Linked DNA regions of Homo sapiens: regions 1, 2 and 3 are each linked to region 4. Evidence: fine-mapped expression QTL. A gene starts in region 4. Each other region holds a variant in brackets. All regions are shown on one strand. Distances are between the middles of the regions.

The links. PIP is the estimated chance that this variant, and not a neighbour inherited with it, causes the effect.
Region 1: its variant is fine-mapped to the expression of CMKLR1 in whole blood (TOPMed, PIP above 0.99).
Region 2: its variant is fine-mapped to the expression of CMKLR1 in tibial nerve (GTEx, PIP above 0.99).
Region 3: its variant is fine-mapped to the expression of CMKLR1 in whole blood (TOPMed, PIP above 0.99).

What each region holds. Positions count from the first base shown.
Region 1 is chr12:108,310,893-108,316,538 of GRCh38, forward strand. The region is part of intron 2 of CMKLR1 (chemerin chemokine-like receptor 1); the gene reads right to left. Among named protein-coding and RNA genes, the nearest start is that of CMKLR1, 26 kb to the right of the region's middle. RefSeq lists silencers at 5,240-5,534, 5,640-5,646. The variant G/A (reference allele first, on the strand shown) is at 2,978.
Region 2 is chr12:108,302,406-108,308,051 of GRCh38, forward strand. The region is part of intron 2 of CMKLR1 (chemerin chemokine-like receptor 1); the gene reads right to left. Among named protein-coding and RNA genes, the nearest start is that of CMKLR1, 34 kb to the right of the region's middle. RefSeq lists enhancers at 1,169-1,690, 3,261-3,782. The variant G/A (reference allele first, on the strand shown) is at 2,889.
Region 3 is chr12:108,410,282-108,415,927 of GRCh38, forward strand. No RefSeq gene overlaps it. Among named protein-coding and RNA genes, the nearest start is that of LINC01498, 61 kb to the right of the region's middle. The variant C/T (reference allele first, on the strand shown) is at 2,976.
Region 4 is chr12:108,336,484-108,342,129 of GRCh38, forward strand. It overlaps CMKLR1 (chemerin chemokine-like receptor 1), which reads right to left and starts at 2,828. Exons shown (of 4, transcript NM_001142343.2): 1 at 2,544-2,828. RefSeq lists an enhancer at 2,261-2,884 and a silencer at 2,992-3,111.

The sequences.
Region 1 (5,646 bases), 26 kb before region 4:
CTCACCAGGGAGGCACATCCCAGGACACGTGTGTGAGGCAGGTAAGTTCGAAGACCGCCCCCCCACCCCCCGCCCAGGAGATGAGCAGGGTGCAGATGAAGGAGCAGTCAGCAGTCTCTGGGGTCTGGTGCTGGGGTTCTGGAAAGGCATCCCCCACTGCAAATTGATGCCAGATACACACTGCTGCTATGCCTTCAATTCCACCATCAGGGTCCTGCTTTCAACTTTTCCCCAGTGAACTGAAGTCAATGTCGTGATGACGATGGAGAAGCAGAGGCCCACACACAAAGGAGGTTTTTGGCCACAGTTATACAGCAAAATGGCGTCAGGACTGGGGCTCAGATGCCAAAACCATTCCTACTATGTCAGATCCAGTTAGTGGTTGACATGAATGTGTGTATGTGTGCGTGTGAGATATTAACACTTAAAAGTGCTAGGGAGACTGGGCACAGTGGCTCATGCCTGTAATCCCAGCACTTTGGGAGGCTGAGGCGGGAGGGTCACTTATAGCCAGGAGTACAACACCAGCTTGGGCATCATAGAGAGACCCTGCCTCTAGGGGAAAAAATTTTAATTTAAAAATTTAGCCAAGTGTGGTGACACACACCTTTTAGTCCCAGCTACTCAGGAGGCTAAGGTGGGAGGCTCGCTTGAGCCCAGGAAGTCGAGGCTGCAGTGAGCTATGATTGCACCACTGCGCTCCAGCCTGGGTGACAGAGCAAGACTTTGCCTCCTAAAAAGAAAAAAAGTGCCAGGGAAAGGACGCTAAGGGGAAAAGGCAGCATAGAGGGGGAGAGCTGGTGGAGGCAAGAGGCAACAGGAGGAAGGGTGGGCCACTGAGCATGGGCATTAGCCTCCCTTCCCCTTGGACAACCCAAGTGAAGTCAGCGACCCCTGACCCAGGACAGGGCTGCAGGACTCATGGGAAGCCCCAGGCTGGGGGCACGGAAGGACTGCTGGGGGGACCTCAGAGGCCAAGTCCTTCCAAACCAACCTGCTCCCTGTGCTTAAGGAGCCCAGTACCCCGAGCATGGTTCAAAGCACCTGGGCCTCTGCTCTTGCAGGTCCCTCTGCCTGGGGTGTGCTTTCCACAAGCATCCCCTTGCTTCTCCCAGCCTCATGTGCACAAATCCAGGCAGAGCAAACAGCAAGGTGACAAGAGGAAAGAGACCCATCCTGTTACGTGCCAGGCACCTAGCTGTGAGCTTGACACCCCCTCATCTCCTTGTGTCCTGACAATCCATCTTCCCCCTGGCCTGAGGACATTACCTCCATTTCACAGATGTTGAAACTGAGGCTGTAAAAGGAACCAGATCAGGATCGCCAGCCAGTGCCCAGTGGAACCAGGACTTGAACTCAGATCTGTGAGAACTCAAAGCATCTATGCCCTTATCACAGCATTTCCAAGCATCGTGGATGGGCTGACAGGCCCCTTTCATCACAAGACTGTGAAACGTGTCCAGGCAGCATTCCTTCCTCTCCCTAGGACTTCCCTTACAGCCTACCAGCACGGCTTCTCCATGGGGAAGAGCCCTCACCCACTGCCTGTCACAGGGTCCTGGGGTGCAGCTATGGGGTGAGAGGAACCAAAACTGAGAGTCTGGGGCTCATGGAATCCACCCCCTGCTTATTAGGCACAGACGGCATACTCAGTGCCTCCACTCACAACAAACCTTCGAGGTAGATATTTTCATTCCCATTTTTCAGATGTGGAAATCAAGCCATAGAGAAGCAAGGGCACTGGCCCAAGATCTCACAGTAGGAAGGGGCAGAGGAGAGATCTGAATCTGCACTGCCTGACTCTGGAGTCCAGGTCTTCAGTGACGGTCACTGTCCTTTATGTTCTGTGGCTTGCCTGCTGCACACGGGGCCCTGTGATCTCATATCAGTTGTCCCCACCTGTGCAACTTCCGCACCTTGCACATTCACAATGCTACCTCACTGACTTGGGGTACTTAGAGACTCCAAATCACCCCCCTCTGCACAGTCTCCACAGGCTGGCCAGACTCCCAGGGCAGGGAGTCTGTAGAGGCCTGTCCAGCCACATGGAGCTTTGAAAAATCCCAGAGCCCTGAGCTGCCCCAGGGTCCTCCTGCCTAGGCTGCCAGCCACGAGCACAGAGGCCTTGGAGTGCTCAGGCAGGCTCTGGCCCCTTGGAATTCCCTGGCTCCAGCCCAAGCAGCTGACAAATGGACTGGCACCACTGCCAGCAATCAGGACGGTGGAGTATGAGATCCCACCCTGTTCCCAGGCACAGGGAAGGAGGGGCAGGCTGCCCTTCCTTTTGACCCTGTCACCAGGCTGTCACCTCTCCCAAGGCAAAGCCCAAGCCTTGACCTAGGAGGGGTCTTGCTGGAAAAATTGCCCCCCACCCTACCCCACCCCACCTTCCATGGAAAACAAAAAGCTGCTCGAAGACCAGAGGAAATTCTAGAATCCTAAAAGTCATTGCTAGAGAGGCTTTAGGATCAAGGGGTCTCACACCCTCATCTTACAGGAAAAGGGAAGTGGCTCAGTGCAGCTGACAGCTTAAGCCTCACTCAGTTACAGCAAATCCACATGTGAATCCCAGCTTGGCCCTTCCCATGCTATGTAATCTTGGATTACTAAATCACAGACTCCTCGTCTGTAAAGGGGGTCAATGTAAAGATTTCATGAGATCATATACGTAGGGTGCATAGGGTGACCAGTTGTCCTGGTTTGCCAGAAACCAAGGGGTGTCCTGGGATGCAGAATGTAAAGTGCTCAAACTGGAATGTCCCAGCCAATCAGGGCCCGCTGGTCACTCTATGAACATGAAGAGACTGGCTCAAACAAACATGCCCTTTGGCTGTTATGTTTAAAGAGAGCTATGTCTGGAGTCAGCTATCAGTGAGTTTGAAACCCCCACCAGTAGAACTTCTAGAAAGACTTGTCAAGTCATTGGAAAGCTCTTCCTTTTTTTCACTACACTGACCTTGAGCAAACTGCCACATTC[G/A]TGTCAGTGTTGGTTTAGGCCCCTGGAGTCACACAGGACAAGCCAGCCACCTCCCTCCCCAGGCAGCAGCCACTTCCTCCCTTTAATCTCCGCCAGCACTTCCTCTGCATCATTCTTAACCCTTTGCCAGCCGACCCCCACCAGGCCAACTGAGCTGCTCTCCTGGGTTGGGGAGGGGTGCCACAATATGGTTTTGCTTGCAGGTTTGTCGATTTTTTATTTTTGTTCACTTAATTATTGGCGTGATGCAGCTGTGGATGGTGGGAGGTTCAAAAGAGGCTCACTTATACAGGGAACATAAATTAAAGTAAAAGAAGGAAGGGAAACATGTGTAGAGACAGAAAATGGAGTCACGGCTAAGGGTGAAATGCAGGGGACACAGAAGTTCCTAGACACTGACAGTGGCTGGACCATACACTGGAACCCCAGCTTCCTGAAAGGGGGACCCAGTTACATGAGTCACATGCTCCTTGCTAAAAACCAAACCCACTCAGGGGAATAGTAAGGCTTCCTGATGCTAGGAGCAGAAGGACTGTCTCCAGAAGCCTGTGGAGAGAAGACATGGGGGATCTGATCACGGAACGGGGTCTCCAGTTCCTGAATGTTTTAAGGGAGGCTCCAAACACTCACTGATGGACAGCACTGCCCCAAACTGCAATTCAGTAAAAGCTGCTTTTCCTAGATATGACTGTGAGTTTCAGTCTACACATCCAGGTGTATGCACTGCTGGTGTAATCCAAAGAATTTTCTAGAATATCTGAGAAGGGGCCTGAACCGTGGCCTTTAAGTCATTCTCCCTGATGTTTTTTCAGAACTGAAGCTTTGGTAGCAGTAGCAGTGATAAGTGGGACACTACTCTTTCTTTTTTCCCCCTCCCTTTTTAAAATTTTATTATTTTAATTTTTGGAGATGAGGTCTTGCTATATTGCCCAAGCTGGTCTTGAATTTCTGGCCTCAAGCTATCCTCCCACTTTGCTTCCCAAAGTGCTGGGCTTACCATCATGTTCCATCATGCCCAGCCCGAGGGACATCATTCTCTATGGCCCAGGCTCGAACACAGCCTTGTTTTTTTTTTTTTTTTTTTTGAGACGGAGTTTTGCTCTTGTTGCCCAGGCTGGAGTGCAATGGCGCAATCTCAGCTCACCGCAATATCCACCTCCCAGGTTCAATCGATTCTCCTGCTTCAGCCTCCCAAGTAGCTGAGATTACAGGCATGCGCCACCACACCTGGCTGATTTTGTATTTTTAGCAGTGATGGGGTTTCTCCATGTTGGTCAGGCTGGTCTCAGGTGATCCACCTGCCTCGGCCTCCCAAAGTGCTGGGATTACAGGTGTGAGCCACTGCACCCAGCCCAAACACAGTCTTTCTCCACACCAGCTGGGGGTGGGCCTGGGGCATCCTTATACTCACCTATCTGTGAACATATTTTATGAAACAGACAATCATGACAAAGACATACTTGATACACAGGTAGAGTGACCCTCCATCCTGGCTTGCCCACAACAATCCCTGTTTATGCTTCTTGTCATGTTCCTTTCATTCTCAAAGTGCCCCAGTCAGGACAATAAATCCTACAGTTTCCCTACTCATAGATTACTCCCTCCTCTGGCCTAGAAGCTCCTGTGTACTAGCCTTGCCCACCTACTTGTGCCAGGCCCTAAGCTAAGCACACGTCCTGTGTCATTAAATTCCCATAAGGGTCCTGTGAGGCAGGTACCACCATGATCCCCATTTGACAGATGAGAAAATGGAGGCTCAGAAAGGCTGTGGCTGCTGTTTCAGGAGGTAGCCATGTGCCAGGAACTTTCCAGGATTTAAACACCAGCTGGTTCTGCACAGATGGCTACTTTCACTACCTCTATTTTCCAGATGCAAAGACTGAGCCTTAGTTCACTGATAAAAGGGTGGCTTACCAAAGCCCCTATGGTTTCAGCCAGGAAAGGACCACAGAATGTCCAAATTTCAGAGTCAGCTTCCTTCAATCCGGGCTCATGAGCTGTGGGTCCCTGGGCAAGTGACATGGCCTCTCTGAGCCTTGATTTATCTCATTGGTAAAATGAAGATGAATCTTGCTGCTTACTGTTGGGTGAGTGAGGAGCAGACGCAGGACCAGCACTTGGACCCTGCGCCTCAGCCCAGCTCTTACAGCTCTAAGAGGAGGGGATGTGTTCCCCCCAGGAAGTTCATAATCCTCAGCAGAAACAGTGCATACTTCATGGAGTCACTGCAAAATGAAAATGCAGCCCCTTATTCAAAAATTACTGAGAATTCAGGACAGCAACTGCCAAGTGTTAAACAAAGCACAGGCCTTCTGAGCCCTGTGTGGCTGCACTGGTCGCCAGCCTGAGATGCTGGCCCTGCCCCTCAGCTCTAGGGAATTTGAGGGAAGAGCCCTCTTCACTTCAGGCCCCAGCAGGGCAGGGGCTCGGCGGGATAGGTGATCTTAGGAGGGAGGAAGAAGCAGCACAGCCAAGAAAGAGCAGAGAGAACAGAGGATGACACCTCCTCAACGTAGACAGAAAGAGAGGGGGAAGAGGGGCAGGGAGAGGAAAGCCAGCAGGAAGAGGAGAGACGCACAGGGACTGGAAAAAGGAGGACAGAGCGGTCAGGGCAAAGCAGCAAAGTGGCAGAAGAAAGACGAAGGCAGGGTGAAGAAAGTCCCCAGGAA
Region 2 (5,646 bases), 34 kb before region 4:
TCCCCAGAAGCAAATCCTCAACTGACGATTCTGGCAAAAGTGATTTATTAAGGAAGCATTTCAGGAAAAACTGGTGAGGGAGTGAGGAAGTGGGAGGAGGCCAGGCAGGGGTGCAGCATCCCACAGCGTCCTACAGAGGGTGGCCTTGGCTCACACCCATCAAGGACCCTGGGAACAGTGCAGGTCACATTCCAGGAGTATTTGCATGCCTCCGCCCTGTCCTGGAGTGTGCATTCCCAGCCACTCCCAGCCTCAGGTCAGTTCAACAAAGAGCCACACAGGTGCTGGCTATCAGGACCCTAATAGTGCTGTGGTACATTGAGAACATGTCTGCAAAGCGGCAACACACGTTTTGCAAGAATCCAGCCAAATAGCCAGACGCACATTGAACACATTAGAATGGCTCCATGGGAGAGAGGGTGGGAGGGGTCACGGGACTGGGAAATAGGGCTACTGGGAAATGAGCACAGTGAAGAAAGAAAATACAAGCGCAGGGACTTCTGGGGGCCCCTGATGGAGAAGTGGAGGGATGGAGGGGTATAATTATGTCAACCCTCCCTCCTCTCCTGAGGTCCAGGAAACCCCAAAACAAACAAACAAACACTCCGATCCCTGCCTGGGGCTCATGCTTGGGTGGTGCCCAGCTCAGAGTCTTGGTTACTGAATCCCTGACCGAGCCACAGTGGCCAGGCAGGGGGCCAAACATGCAGCCCTCAGAGCTCCACCCGTTTTCCCCGTTAGGCGGGAATGAACTTGGACCGGCCAAAGGAAGTAACAACGTCAGCCCAGCCAGGAGAGGCTGTGCAAAGAGTCCTGGGCCCTAGTCCTTCCTCGTCGAGCCCAGCCCCTGCTGGGGGTGGGATGGTCACCAGGCAGACAGTTGTGTCCTGCCCACACCCCCGCTGCCGGACCCTTGCTGGGAAAGGGACAGGGCCTCAAGGTCACATCTGGCTTCTCCTGCCATGCAGAACAAAAGCCTCCAATGGACATTATTGGCTTAAGTTTTATTAAACAAATACACGTACAGTCCTCACTACAGTCCAGCCACTGTTGTAAGCACTGCTACTAATGAGAAAACAGGCACAGAGAAGGTAACTAACGTGCCCAAGGTCACACAGAGAGCTCAGGTAAGTAAGGTAGGTCCAATTAGCCATTCTGAAGGAATGCTCAGAGACAGGCTTCAAGCCCAAACCCTGCTGAATTGACAAGCTCACTCTCTGTCCACTGCTTCGCCTCCTTGGAACATTCCACAAAACTCTGGCTTTTGCCCCAGTGGAACCTCCCAAGGGCCCCCAGAAAATCAATCTGGCAAGATTCAGGGTGTGCATTTTACAGACGGAGCAAGGCAGGGCTCCGGGTCCCCTGCAATTTTCTCCCCCAGGTCCCTCTGCCTCTGGTTAATAGCCTGAATGTGAAATGCCTCCAATCTCGGTTACAGGAGAAGCCTTTGGAGGCGGGGATCATTCATTTATTCATCCATCCTCCAAGGACATGTGGAGCCTTCTGCGCCCCAGAGCTGGTGTGGCTGCTGGGATGCAGCACACCGTGGGTGAGAGCACACCTTTTCTCTCTGCAGCCTCCCCCTAACCCTGCAAGGTCACTGGTATCAGTCCCACTTTACCAACGGGGATGTCTGAAGCTGAGGCAGGGGAGCAAGTAGCTTGCCTCACACCTGCCTGGTTGGTTGATCGATGACAGTGTTAAGCAGGGATTGCAGGGCTGGAGGACAGCAAGGTTGGGTGTTTACCCTCCAGCTCCTTCCCTGTAGGGTCTCCATGGGTCGACTTGGCCACAGCTATACTCTCCAGGCACCAAGAACCACTGCTCCCTCTTGCCCCTCAGCCTAGAGACAGTGAGTTCTCCTTGCCATTACCAGGACTGGGATTCAAAACCCAAGTTCATATGGATCCAGGGCCTCACCTCCTCTGGCTGTTCCCCTGCCGGTGTGTGTCCTATGGGCTCAGTGTACAGCAGGGCCGGGGACCATCTGGGCAGCAGATATTTACCTTCTGCTTCCTTGATTAAACCCCTTTGCCCAATGGGTTCTTTACATCGCAAAGCACTGGCTCCTTTTCTGCCCTGGTCTCTCTGTCCTTTGTCTCTTTCCCTGCTTCCACCTCTGTCCTGTTCTTACTCTCCTCTGTCTCATATCTGACTTGTTCTTTCTGCCTCTCTCTCTCCCCCAGTCTCTGTGTTTGCCTCTCTTTGTTCCTGGCCCTCTCCGTCTCTTCCATCTCTCTGCAGTCTCCCTGTCTTCTCAGTCTCCACCTCCTCCTCTCTCTTCCCATGTTTTCTCCACCTCCTGCACACCGGTCACGGGTCAGCCCTCCCCCTCTGACAGGCTCGGCTGCCCCTCACCTGCAACATTCCTCACCTGTGCGCCTAGCCAGCCCAAGCTTCCAGCAGCCACTCTGTCAATCTGCTGTCTCTTTCATCGCAGGCTACCACTAACCTCTTCCTGAAAGCAGGCCACAGGCCAAATGCAGGGGCTTTATCAGGGCCTGTGGGCGTAAGAGCCCATCAGGGAAACTGGAAACATTCCTCGCTCTGCAAATGACCATGTTTGGCCTGGCTCCTGTCCCCATCTTCTCCCCACATGACCCACCCTGACAGTCCAGCCAGATGGCTCAGACACCTCTCCTCCAATTCTGTCAGCCTCCAAAAGGAGCTGGGAGGCCCCTCGGAGGACCATCTCTTGTAGCAGGGGAAACTAAGGCCCAGAGAGTGCATGACCCTCTCTAAATCATAGAAAAGAGGGACTTGGTCTCTCTTGTTTATGGTGTATCCCCAGAGCCTAGAACTGTGCCTGGGACTTCCATAACTTCTGCCTCAGTGTGATCCACATAGACCGTTCCATAGATTTGCAAATAGGGACTCAGAGAGGTGAA[G/A]TGACTAGTCCAGATTCACACAGCCTTTAAGCATCAGCTCGGGATTTGAACCAAGGACTTTTTGACCCCAAAGCACAAGATCACAGCCTCAACCAGCAGCTGAAATGTAATGAGGCGGGCCAGTCACCACTCTTGCCCTCAAAAATGTCTCTCCTGAGCAGCATACCAGCCTCCCCCTGGCCTGGACGACTGTAGGTGCTGATGTCTTTGCCTGCTGCCTTCTGGGCCAGTCCATTCACCAGATCTCCTACCCTCCAGGGCAGAGAGAAGGGGCCTCTCATCTCCCAAGGATGGCTCCAGAGACACCTCCAGATCCCTGTATCCCCAGGCTCTGACAGACTCGGGAACCTGGAAACCACACAGTGTCTGCAGATGTTCCAGCCACAGGCCTGGCTGCCAGCCCCAGGACAGAATTAGCTCCGTGTCAGGAGAGAATTTCCTCCCTGGTCCCACGCCCACATGTGGGAGCTCGCACTGAGTCACTGCAGCAGAGCAGAGCGGCACGGGCTGCCTAACAGACTGTCCCATTTTCTTTCGGGTTTGGAAGGGGCCACGACGGAGCTTAGGACTCCATAAGAATGGGCAAAAACAAGGAGCTTATGCCCCTGAACCCAGACAGCCCACCTGCTTAGAGGCCAGGAAAAGCAGCTGATGAGCTCACCGACTCAGGGAGACCCCCCCACCCAAAATATTCACGCCACTGCCTGGCATCCTCCCATTAGAACACTACTCCTTGAGCCTTAAAAGCGTTTCCTTCCTCTCCGGGGATCTCTGTCTCCAGATCCCTGTCTGTTCTGTGCCCTACAGGCTGACCTGCTTGAAAATCTCAATAGGCTGTTTGCCCTCTGACCTCTGGTTTGATCCACAACTGCAGGCGTGGAGCGTGCGGTTGGGTACAAACCCTCCAGCTCCCTCCTTGTCAGAGGTGTGCGGGTTGGCCACAGCCACACTCCTTGGGTGCCTTAACTACTTCCTGCTCTAGCCCCTCAGTCTAGGAACAGTGAGTTCTCGCCTTCACTGGACCCGGAGCGTGGTAGGGATCCCTTGTACTGTCTACCCTTTTGTCAGTCCTCCCCTGACTAAGTTCTCGTTAATCACCTCATTTGAGTGGGTTGTCCATCTCCTGCCAACACTCTGACTCAGAAACCAGACTCTCCACACTTTCCCCTCCCTCCCTACCCACACATCTATCAACAAGTTCTTCCCATTTTGTCCTCCCAACAACTCACAGCTGTGAGCATCACCTCTGCTTACCTATGTGGCTACCAGGGGCTCCTAACTGGTTAGAAACCTATCTACCTAGTACACAGACCATTTTATTCCTAGTAGACAAATCTTTTCAAGAAGCAAACCACATCATGTCACTCCTTGCTGAAAACCTCTTAGCACCTCCTTGTTCTTAGAATCAAGACCAATGCCTTACTATGGCCTGAGCAATCTAGACCCTGCCTACCTGAGGACTGAGCTGAGGCTCGAGCCCAGACCCAGACGGAACCAAGTTCCATGAGAACACGCCCTTGCAAACTCAGCCTCATTACTTTATTGGACACCTAGCTGCCCTTGTAACCATCTCCCCAGCAGCCATTCCTAGTCACAGAAGGTCCCCAGCAAGAGCATTTGATGGACATCTGTCCTTCCAGGCCAGGAAGCCCCTGTAGCCCCCAATAATGGGTCCCGTACACAAGCCCTAAGTATCTTCCCAGCCATCCAGCTTGTGCCTCTCCCCATAAACACCGCCCCAGCCCCTGGAGCTGGCCTGTAAACAAATTTTCTCCCCTGCGCATATCCCACTGGACTGGGAGGTCCAGCACCATATTTAGTTAATCCCCTGACGTCAGCCTTGGGTCCACTCTTGCAAATAATCCCCAAGCTATGAACACATTGTAGCCAAAGGGTGGCTGGTGCTGGGGATGCTTACAGCTTGCTCAGGATGTGGTCAAGAAGGCAGCTGGGGTGAGTGACTTCTGCCCATGCTGGGAGCCAGCCTGTGGCACGCACTTGGTGTGCTGTTCTGGGTGTGGGCTTGGAATCTCGACTCTGGGAGGCAGCGGAGGCCCCACATGCCTCCAGAAGCGCCCCCTGAGAAGTCACTCTTCTCTTACAACCAGGTCAGCACAGCTCACCCTCTGCCCTTGCTTCTCTTCTCTGGCACCCTGAGATACCTGAAAAGTGGCAACTCAAGAAACTTACCCAGCCACAGGGTCCCAATCTGCCAGCGGGTGGGGAGAAGGGCAAGGAGGTGGAGAACCCAGACTCATCCGCTCTGGAGCCCTTGTGTTTGAGTCCCATGCCTCGCTCCTTCCTTTCTGTTGCTCTGGTGAGCTGGATAAGGAAGCCATGGCTTCTGCCATTCCCAGCTTCAGCTCAGCCTCCCACCTCCCCAGCATCCCTACATCCTCTGCAAGAGGCTCTGCAAAGCGTGTTTCACTTTATTCAAGTCCCTCAGCTGAAACCAAGCTATTGTCTGGCCTCAGTCGGGACAGGGCATTAACACCTAACAAGGAGGTGGTCCTGGCTGGGTGACCTGGATCTGCTCTCCACACCTCCAAGTCTCTTTTTCCACTTCTGGGGCATGTGGACCACCCAACATACCATGATGGTGAAGGAGAATAACCTCTGTGGCACACCTAGAAAAACAGCCAGCCCTTCATCAGGTCACAAACAATGCCAGTTGCCCATTATTCTCATTTCACAGATGAGAAAACTGAGATTCAGATTCAGTGAAGTGACCGAGTGAGCACGTGGGTAGAATCAGGAG
Region 3 (5,646 bases), 74 kb after region 4:
TGGAGCTGACCAATCATTGTCACCAAGCCCCGAAACCACTGGTTTCCACAGCCACCTGGTTCCCCAGGGTGCCAAAGTCCTTTCATTCCTAGGGACTGTCATTCAGCTACATTTGGTCCCATGAGATATTCTTACCAATTCACTTTTGTTCAAAATAGCCAAGAGCTTGATAATACTGTGTCCCATGTTTCATAAGCAGAAGGCTGGAAATAAAGTGGAGAAGTACACAAAAAACCCTTGCTTCCAATATCACAGGACTTTGAGTTCACAGATCATTAGAATGAGAGTGGACTTAACTGACCAACTCCCTGCCAAGTCATTGTCCAGCCTCCCAGTGGGAAGTCTTCACCTCCCAGTGAATCTTCTTCAATGGGTTTTGCAGCTCTGCCACTTGCTGGCTGTGGAGTAAAGGACAAATCACTTTGCTGCTCTGAGGCTCAGTTTGTATATGTTGTTGCACTGTGTGTTCTGAATGAGATAATGTCTGCAAAATGCTTTGCATATATATGGTATACAGTAAGTACTCAAATAAAGGCAGTTACCATATCTTGCATGGAAACAAAATCTGCCTATTCCCAGAGCACCACCCCCACACCATCCCACTTACCTCATAGAACCAAAGGTCTTTGACAAGGAAAATGTTTCTAGGTCTTCATGTTACTAAAATAACAGACCCAGAGAGCTCCAAGAGGTAACCCAGCCTCACGTAGCCTCAAGAGGTAACCCAGCCTCACGTAGCAAGCAACTGTGGTACGGGACTTGAGTTCCATAATGTCTTGCTGGCTGGCTGGTCTTTGAGCCATACCTTCAATGTTGTCTCCAAGGTCCAAAAGGAGACCTGAAACCACCAAGATGGACAACAGGGAAGAAAATTGTTTCTTGTGGAAAAAGAAAGAGAAAAGGAAATTATTTGATACAGTGCTCCCAGATTCCATCTTGAACATGTCCATCACCCATCACCTCGCTGGGTAATTGCCCACACAGTTACTGCATTACAGCTCCAATTAGATACTGTGGCCTACATTTGGGAAACCAAATAATTCACTCTGCTAAATTTGGTGCTGGGATTCTGCATTTATAAATCCAGCCCAGCGTGAGATCCAGGACAAATAAAACTCTATTCCCTGGACAGGTTAAGATGAGGCATCCATTCTTATTACAAACCCAATTAAAGCTTCCTAGAATCACAAGATGTGTAAAGCGTTGGTGAGGCATGCCAGAGATCTCAAACCCAAATGCCTGCAGAGGCTAGGCCAGTAATGTCAATGAATGAAGACGGACAGGTGGATGCTATCGTGACCCGAGGGGTATATGCTTGGCCTAAGGAAGGAAGCCACCACTCAGCATCAGCTAATCATCGCCATGTGGGAGTATGGGCCCAGGGTTGCCACTCCCAGCTCCATCATTCACCAGCTGTGTGACCTTGGGCAAGCCACTAAACTTTTCTTGTCACTCAATTTTCTCATCCACAAAATGAAGATAATAATAGTGGCTACCTCTTAAGGTGGTTCTGAGAATTAAATATGCCATACATTGAAGTACTTAGAACATTGCTTACCCCATAGGAAGGACTCAATAACTACTAGCTTGTTGGTTGTTAAGTCAATGGTTTCAAAACAACGGATTCTTGGAGTCCATTATGGGGGCAAGGGTATTCAAGCTATTCTCAATATAGAAAGGCTAACTACAGGGGGTAAGACCAGATTGACTAAAGAATCTTTTATTTTGGCTGGTATTCTGGCATTCTAGTAGACTCTAGAAGAATTACATTAGGACTATTGCAATCAGAACCTTATTTGACTCATGATTATCTTTAACTTATTAAAATTTGGGCAACTAATTAATTCCTATTTTATGCAGTGGATTTAGTGAGCAAGATATTTTCAATTAAGGAGTCCTGGGGATAAAACAACAGGATTCTTGGTGAGCAAAAATTTGGGCACCGTTGTTCTATAACTAGAATATAGAAGATCTGGGTTTGGAATCGAGATGCTTAAATCCTTGACTTCATTATGATAATCGAAAGGAAATTCACCGATCATGGGTGGAGGATACTAGTGAACAAACTATTGTGAAAATTAGTAAATAAAGGGAAAGGAGCATGCATTTATTCTGCCTTTCCTCAAAGAACTGTACCTCAGGCTACCCAAATATTTGATAATACATTATAGATGTATTATAGGTAATAAATAAATATGGAATTATAGAAAGAGTATCACCCTTTTACAAACCCTACAAAATTAATAGATTTAGGCATTGAGCATCAATAGCTGCTAATATCACAAAAAGCACACTACCTGCTATGTCTTACAAAAAGAAATGAACATAAGTCTGATAAACCCTCTAGATCCAACTACCAATTTTCAAGGAAAACCAAGAAAAGAACACCTTAAAGAAACCATGAGACTATAGCAAAATATAGACTGGAGGAATCTTCTAGAGAAAATAACAGTTCTTCCACAATAAATTGCAAAGACCAAAAGGGTTATAAAGGAAGGGGACAGGTACAGTGATTCATTCCTGTAAACCCAGTGCTCTGGGAGGCTGAGGTGGAAGGATAGCTTGAGGCCGGGAGTTCAAGACCAGCCTGGGCAACATAGTGAGACCCCCATCTCTACAACAAATAAAAACACCAGACAGGGTGGTGTGAGCCTGTATTCCCAGCAACTCAGGAGGCTGAGGTGGAAGGATTGCTTGGGCCCAGGAGTTCAAGGCTGCAGTGAGCTATGATCACACCACTGCACTCCAGCCTGGGTGACAGAGTGTGAGACCCTGTCTCTGAAAAAAGCAAGAGAGAGAGAGAGTTAGAAAGGAAGGGGATCTACAGATTTAAAAAGACTTAGGCATATTAACCAAGTGAAACATATGAACTTTATTTGGATCCTGTGGTGGGCAGAATAATGGCCTGCAAAGATGTTCATCTCCTCATCCCTAGAACCTGTGAATACAGGTTATGGCAAAAGAGACTTCGCACA[C/T]GAGGTTAAGGTTAGGGATCTTGAGATGGGAAGATTACTCCAAGTTTTTCAGGAAGGGTCAGTCTAATTTAATGAGTCTGTAAAAGTGGAGAATCCTTTCTGGCTGTAATCAGAAAGCAATGTGACTATAAAAGAAGGATCAGAGAGGAGCGATGTAACTGGTTTAGATGGTGGAGGAAGGGAGCCACAAGCCACAGGATGTGAACAACCTCTAAGAAGGTGGAAAACACAAACAGGCAGGTTCTCCTACAGAGCCTCCAGAAAGGCACATGGCTCTAATGATGCCTTGACTTCTGCTCAGAGATATCCGTGTTCAACTTCCAGAACTATAAGATCATAAATTTGTATTGCTTAAGCCACCAAGTTTATAGTGATTTGTTACAGCAGCAATGGAAAACTAATATGGATCCAAACAAGCAAACCATAGTTTTGGGATGATCTGTGCAGCAAACCGCCATGGCACATGTTTACCTATGTAACAGACCTGCACATCCTGCACATGTACCCCTGAACTTAAGAGTTGTAAATAAAATAAATACATTTTAAAATTTTTTAAATAAAAATTAAATCATTGGGAGAAATTTTAACAGTAGATATTTGATGATTTTAAGAAATTAGTGAGCTAAGAAATTACTTGATAGTATTAAAGAATTAGCTGATCATGACATTTCAAATTTTTGGTAATCCCCAGATTTTTGTGTTTTTGGTGCAATGCTCCTGCAAGTGATGTTTTGAGTGAGTACTCACAGGAGGAAAGAGATAATGGGGGCAAAGCAGGGAAGAGGGTAAACTCTAAGCAAGGGTATGGCCAGCTAGAGAATAGCCTTAGCCTGGACCCAGAAGGATCTGTGGAGCATAAATTACATCATAGAGATGACAACACCTAGAGGCCAGGAATCTGGATTTTGTTCCTCTGTGTCAGTTACTGGCTCTGTGCTGCTGCCAGGTAATAGAGGGCTAAAGCTGACTCACCAGAGAATGAGGCGAGGTATCCATGAGGCATGCAGTCAGCACTCACAGCACCTGGAACACGGGTCCACCAGCCCATTAAAGGGATCTGGGAGGGACACCAACAGCGTCTATTACAGTCTACGCCTTAAACTGCTCCGATCCATCGCTTCTCACATTAAGTTCATTCCATGCAGCTGTAGCTTCTCTCTAGGACTCTGACTGGTCACCATTTGGAAGAAATTTTGACAAGAAGATTAGTGGGATAAACTAGAGCTTCCACGGCTGCAGGTGGTCTCGAGGCTATCACTAATACTCACCATCTCCCTCCTCCACGACTCATTCTAGATCACCCTCTCCATCAGTTAGCACTTCTGCTGGACTAAAAGGCTGGTCAGATGGAGTGATACACACCCTCATCCTGGAGGGTCTGAGCCCCTGGTTACAATGCTCTTATCAGGCAGTGGTTGCTAACTGCCCATTTTCAGTGACAGTTAGTCATGGGGGTACAAAGTAATGCCCCGGTGAAGCACCTGAGAACCAATAATATCTCTCTCTGTTCTCATGGTGTAGCTGCAGCCCAGTCTCATCATGATAAGAAGGGCCAATGCCCTGTGCCAGGATGGTGACTATTTTCTTTGCCTTATGGTCTTCTCAAAGTGCCCAGATGGCAGGCATAGATTTATGTTTGCTTTTATTGTGTCCTCTGGTGGAAATTGCCCCCGCTGGAAATTATAATCTTGAGGTTCACAGAGCCTGATGACACCACACAAATCCTCCAAGCTCATCACTAGGAGGTATGGAGAGCGAATCAATGCCAATTTTCATTTCTTGGCTCTCGAACCCAATATTCTACCTCTTAATGACACAGCAAGATATAATGGCCATTGATTTACAGAATATTCTGCATCCATAAGGCTAGTGTGCCAAACTTGCAGGGTGTCATCTCTAAGCTAACAGATCAGCTATGCGTTCAGTGGGCCATTCCACTGCTCTAACAGATGTACCCGCCTCTGGATAATGCAGAATACGGTAAGACCAGTGGATCTTATGGTCATGTGCCCACTGCTGCATCACTTGGCACAAAGTAGGATTCTACAGTATCACATGATGGCACATACATATGAATCCTTAAACAGCAGTGTTGGCTGAGGCCCTGAGAGCAGGAAAGGCAAACACACACCTGGAATACACGTCAATCCCAATCAAGATGTCCACAGTGTAAAAATCTAATACAGTCAATTTTTCACTCTATCATGTCCACATCAGGTGCGGATGGTTTCCTCCAGGGATTATATCATGTGGGAGACAGCATTCTCTCTGTTGTGAGAAGATTAGTGATTGAGCAACAGCAGTACCTGGATCAGCCTTGGTAAGACAGATCATGGTGTTTGTCCCATGCATCATCTCCATCTCTGCCACCACGGCTACTCCGTGGTGCAAACCCTGGGTTGGCCACAGAGAGAGAATAGCTGACACCTACTGGCTAAGTCATCCTGTCCATATGATTTTTTTAGTGCTTTTTTCACAATAGATGTCTTCTGGTTGGCATCAAAATACGAAATAAGGCCAGGGCATGGTGGCTCATGCTTGTAATTCCAGCACTTTGGAAGGCTGAGGTGGGCAGATCACCTGAGATCAGGAGCTCAAGACCAGCCTGGCCAACATGGCAAAACTCTGTCTCTACTAAAAATACAAAAATTAGCCAGGCATGGTGGCAGGC
Region 4 (5,646 bases):
TGCAGTGAGCCAAGATTGCGCCACTGTACTCCAGCCTGGGCGACAGAGCGAGACTCCATCTCCAGGAAAAAAAAAAAAAAGAAACACTCACAATTATTCTAATGCAGGTGGTCTAGAGATTGCACTTTGAGAAGCTCTGAGTCTACTTCATAGCCTCGCAACTGGCGGTAATGTCTGCACCCATGTGGTGTAGCTCAAAGAGAATGAAATAAGCTTTTGGTTTTCTTGTACATCAGTGGGAATAAGAGCATTAATAATCCACTAAAGAAATCAATAATAATTTCCATTTGGCTCAGATGAGTGTCACAGGTATAGACAGGCACAGTGGAATAGAAATGATCATCAGAACAATAGCTAATGTTTATAGAGACCTTATTTTACAACAAATCCTCTGCTTACAGCTTTACTTGTATGATCTCATTTACTCTTTAGAATAATCTTATGAGGCAGTTACTGATCATATTCCCATTTTATAGATGAGGAAACTCAGGCACAAAGATGAGGAATAACTGATTCCATGTCACTCAGTTGGCAGGTGGCAGGCCAATTCAAGCCCACCCCCAGAGTGATAATAATATCAAATAATATCATCCTTATTTACAGATGATATTATTGTGGCCAGAGAGTGGGAGTACCTTGCCTAAGACCAAGGTGCCCCTTCTTGCACAATGTTCTACTCCCTTTTGTGGGGAGGTCTAGCATCAGAACTCTCCAGGCTTCTGTTTCCTAATCTGTAAAATGGGCATGTTAATAGTACCTTCATCATGTGGCCATGGTGAGGATTTGATAAAATCATCTCGAGAAAGTGGTTTGCAAACTGAGAGGAGTTATTAGGTAAACATCTAAGAGATGGGACTTCAGTCCAACTTCCCCCACCCCATTTTACAGATGGTGAAACTGACACCTGGTTACTTTATTTATTCCATGAACAATGACCCTAATATATGCTAGTTCTTGTGCAGGGGACTGAGGATGCAGAAAAAAAGTAATATCCCAGATCTGGCCTCTAGGGGCCTCCCGGCTAGAAGGAGAGACAGACAAGATGACTGGTCATTAGAACACGGTGTGGTAGGAGCCGTGATAAGGGAGGGATAGGCCCTGGGAGAGCCTAGCAGACAAGCCCTGACCCAGTGCGGGTAGGGGACTTCTCAGAACAAGTCAAGCCAGAGAAAGGCATGACTTGCCCAAAGTTAAGGTTATCTGTTCCCTGAAGTTTTGGGGGAGTCCAAAGAAGGCCCCTGTGCATCAAGAGATAACTCTCCTGTGGACCTCCCAAGTGTATGACACATCATCATTTGAGTGCCACTGGTTTAGGTTAAAGAAAAGGCCAAGCTGCCTCCTCCTGCACCAGAGGCCTGAATGACCCAGTCACACTCACCTCAGCAGCCAAGGCATTTAGAGGAATCTTACCTTCAAACCAGTTTGGAAGGGGCAGGAGATACAGCAAGAACCACAGAGAAGATTGGTCTTGAGAAGGAGGTAGGGGATGCAAAAGGGAAGTTGAGGGCTTTCCCTAATAGAAAAAGAAAGACTCAGAACCTGGACGTTCAGGCGTGTGACCTCAGACCAGTGATCTGGCATCTCTGAACCGCACAGGTCTGAGTGATTGGGCTTATATCAAGTAGTAGTTCCCTGATGTTGTAATGCTTATAATTTTGCCAAAGCTGGCTTGCCCATTTAAAATGGGCTATTCTGAAGACAGAGGAGGGAGTGGAATATTTTCAACAGAGAGTGCCGGCAAAGGTTTTGTGTCCTTTATATACAAAGAACCCTTAGATATCAATTGGAAAAAGATAAACATGCCCCCAGAGGAGAAAAAAATGGGAACAGACTTGAACAGGAGAGTCAGACTAGAAATGTGAAAAATAAGTTTATAAAAGAGAATCAACACTAACAAAGAAATGAAATGCCTATTGAAGCATCTAGATATTATTCTCGACTTCACATCAGGGAAAGTTTAAGGGATGGGTAGCAACAAGGTGGGTTTAGTATGTGAGAATACTGTGCCCTGGTATAACATCGTAGAGAGGTCAAGCTGCCACGGCCTTCCAGGGTGCAGTGTGACCAAAAGCTCAGAAGTCTTAAAAATAGGCAAACCTTAAATCTAGCAATTTCTAAAAGGTATTCATAAGACACACACACAAAGATGTCATACTAAATATTCATTGCAGCACTGTTCTAATAAAAAAAAAGAAGCAAATCTATTATGGAAAAGTCAAATAATCTTAAGATAGCCTTTCTATGCAGCCATGAAAAATGTATATTGGAAGAATATAGGTGATATGGAAAAAAGTTCACAATCTGTGGTTAAGCAGGTTACCAAACTAGATGTGGAAATCCACATTCATATATTTAGTTGTGTATCCTTGCTATTTCTTTAAACAATGAACATGCATTACTTTTGACATCTGAAAATAATAACAAAACTCTTCCTTTTAACAAATATGAAATTATAAAAAGAAACAAACTTTTCTCTCTGTTAGTATTCATTCCCCTTCCCTGGCCCCCCTCAGAAGACACCCAAGGCAAGTGTGTGATGATACCTTCCCTCTGGTCTCTGCCCGGAAGGTCTTCCTGAGGGTTCCCTGTGACTGCAGGCCACTCGAGGCTGTTGGGGAGACTTGCACACCCTGGCTTCTTTCTGCCAATCACAGGCTCCTCTGGCTGTGGCTGTTTGCCCAGAAAGCAGTTCATTCATTTGTTCATTCAAGATCCCCCTCTGAACCCCCAGAGCGCCGCAGCTGGAACACCCCTATCACCCGGAGGCTTCCCAGGGAGCCTGCTCTGTCCTGAGCTCCCTGCTGGCCGCCGGGGCTGCTTCCCTGAATGGGACTGGGACAGAACTCAGCCAGAGAAACAGCTGGAGGGAGGAGAGCAGGAGGGAGGGGCAGGAAACTGGGCTGACCTAGGGCGGGGGCGGCTAGCTGCGTGGAGAGGGGGCTGCGAGGGGAGGGTGCCCCTACCAGCCGGGGACTGGGCTTGTGGGTGGCGGCGGGGGCCCGCTGGGGACGACCCGCCCCTCTGGCAGCCTCTTGCAGCCGGGGAGCCGTGCCCACTGAGCGCAAACAGGGAGCACATCTGAGCACCCGGCTGCTGGGGGAAGTGCAAGCGCCTCTGCTCCCGGTGAGGGGCTCAAGCTCCACACTGACCGAGAGATTGGCTGCCTCTCACCCTGGGCCTTTGCAACGCTGTTCCTCCCACCTGGATGCTATTCCTGCCCTAATTCGTGGCCCGATGGTCTCCTACTGCCTCTTCAGGTCTCAGGTTGAAGGTCACCTCCCAGGGAAGCCTTCCCCAACCCTCGGGGGCTGCTGTGCCCCTCAGGGTCACCCCATCACCTCACTGATGCAGTGCTGTCCTTGCCTGTTAAGATGTCTCTCTCCTTGCACCGAGAACTCCTTGCACCAGGAACTCTGTAGGGAAAGAACTGTATTCTGTTCCCTGCCCTAACCAGGCGCTAAGTGCCTGGTTCATCGGCTGTGTGGTCACCATCATTAGTGGAATAATCAAAACAACCGACAGCCAGGCAGCGTGCTAGGCGATGCGTACTTACTCTTCACGGCAACCCTAGATAACAGGAATTATTACTACTCCAGTCTTACCAATAAGGAAACTGGGGTACAGAGAGATTAAGTCACTTGCTCAAGACCACACCGCCAGCAGCTGACAGAGCTGGGATTCCAACTATGTTGTCTGGCTCGGAGGCCCACCCTTGGCCTCCAGACTGAAGAAATAACAGAAGTGCCCATGTGGGCCCCTGTGCCAAGTGCTTCCATGGAGTAAGCCGTGTGAACCACCACCCACGTCGGGGGGGCATCACTTGCCCATTCTACACATGAGGATGCTAGGGCCACAGAGCAGAAGTCGTTTTGCCCAGGGCGCCAAGCTCATGCTGACCGAGCCATGGCTGGATCTGAGTCTGTCTGATTCCAAAGCCAAGACTGCCTACGACTGCCTAAAATAATATTTTTAGAAAGAAAAAGAAAAGGGAAGGGCAGGGGAGGGGAAGAGAGGGGAAGGGAGGAGAAGAAAGAAAGGAAGAAAAGGGAGGGCAGGGAGGAAGGTAATGGGGAGGAGGGGAAGGTGAAGGGAGAGGGAGATGGGGAGGGAGGGAGAGAAGGAGAGAAACCTGTGTTTTGGGCCTCAAAGTCTTGGGCAGGTGGAGGACTATGTCCTCATCGTCTGATCAGCCTTAGAACCCCACCGACCTCTCCCCACCATCCTCAATCCTTTAATTCAGTGAGCTTTACACTTAGAAACCATCTAATTTCATTCTTCCATTTCACAGATAACTTGAAGCCCAGAGAGATTGAGTCTCTTGCCTGAGGTCACACAGGTCTCTATAGTCAGAAGTCAGGCCCAGTCTACCCAACTGTCTTCCTTGCTCTCTTCTTCTTTGGGCTTATCTAGGGAACAAAACATCATATCGAAACACTTACTGTACAGATGAGAACACTGAACCCAGAGGAGGCAAGGGACTCACCCAAGGTCACCCAGAAGTTAGTAATTGTATTGGTCCGTTCTCACACTGCTGTGAAGAAATACCCAAGACTGGGTAATTTATAAAGAAAAAAGGTTTAATTGACTCACATTTTCGCATAGCAGGGGAGGCCTCAGGAAACTTACAATCATGATGGAAGGTACCTCTTCACAGGGTGGCAGGAGAGACAATGAGTGCCAGGCAAAGGGGGAAGCCTCTTATAAAACCATCAGATTTCATGAGAACTCACTCACTATCATGAGAACAGGATGGGGGGAAAACCACCCCCATGTTCAATTACCTCCCACCTGGTCCCTCCCATGACTCGTGAGGATTATGGAATTCCAATTCAAGATGAGATTTGGGTCGGGACACAAAGCCAAATCATGTCATTCCCCAGGTTCTCCTGGTGAAAGGAGAGGATATTTCCATAACGTGGCAGGGATCTTGTATATCACCATCTAATAGAGACCAGAGGTTCCTAAAGTCTAGTTTCCATACCAACCCCAGCAGCCTCACCCAGAAGTTTGTTAGAAACACAAACCCTTGGGCCTCACTGCAGACCTTGGCAATCAGAGACTCCAGGAAGCCATCTGGGTTTTAAGAAGCCCTCCAGGGGATTCTGATGCTTGCTCAAGTTTGAGATCCACTGACATAGGCATTTCAATTAGGAATCCATTGAAATGGGCCCTGGAACAAGTCACCTTGCCAATGCACAGAATAGTGGCTAAGAACAGAGGCTTTGATAGCAGACGGACCTGGTTTGAATTCCTGTCGCTGTCACTGTAAGCTGTGTGACTTGGGCAAGGCCTTTCACCTTTGGAGTCTCAGTTTCCTCATCTGCTGTGGACAGTGGAAGAGGAAGAGGAGGAAGAGGGAAAGGGAGGAGGGAGAGGAAAAGAGGAGGAGGGAAAAAGGAGAGGAGGAGGAGGGAAAGAGGAGAGGAGGAGGAGGAAAAAGGAGGGGCCAAGTAGAGGAGAGGGGAGGGGGAGGAGGAGGAGGGAAAGGGAGGAGGGATATGAAAAGAGGAGGAGGGAAGAGGAGCGGAGGAGGAGGGAAGAGAAAGAAAGGGGAGGAGGAGAGGGTGGGGGAGGAGGAGACGAGGAGGAGGGAGTAAGGAGGAGGAGGGAAAGGGAGGAAGGAGATGAAAAGAGGAGGAGGAAGGA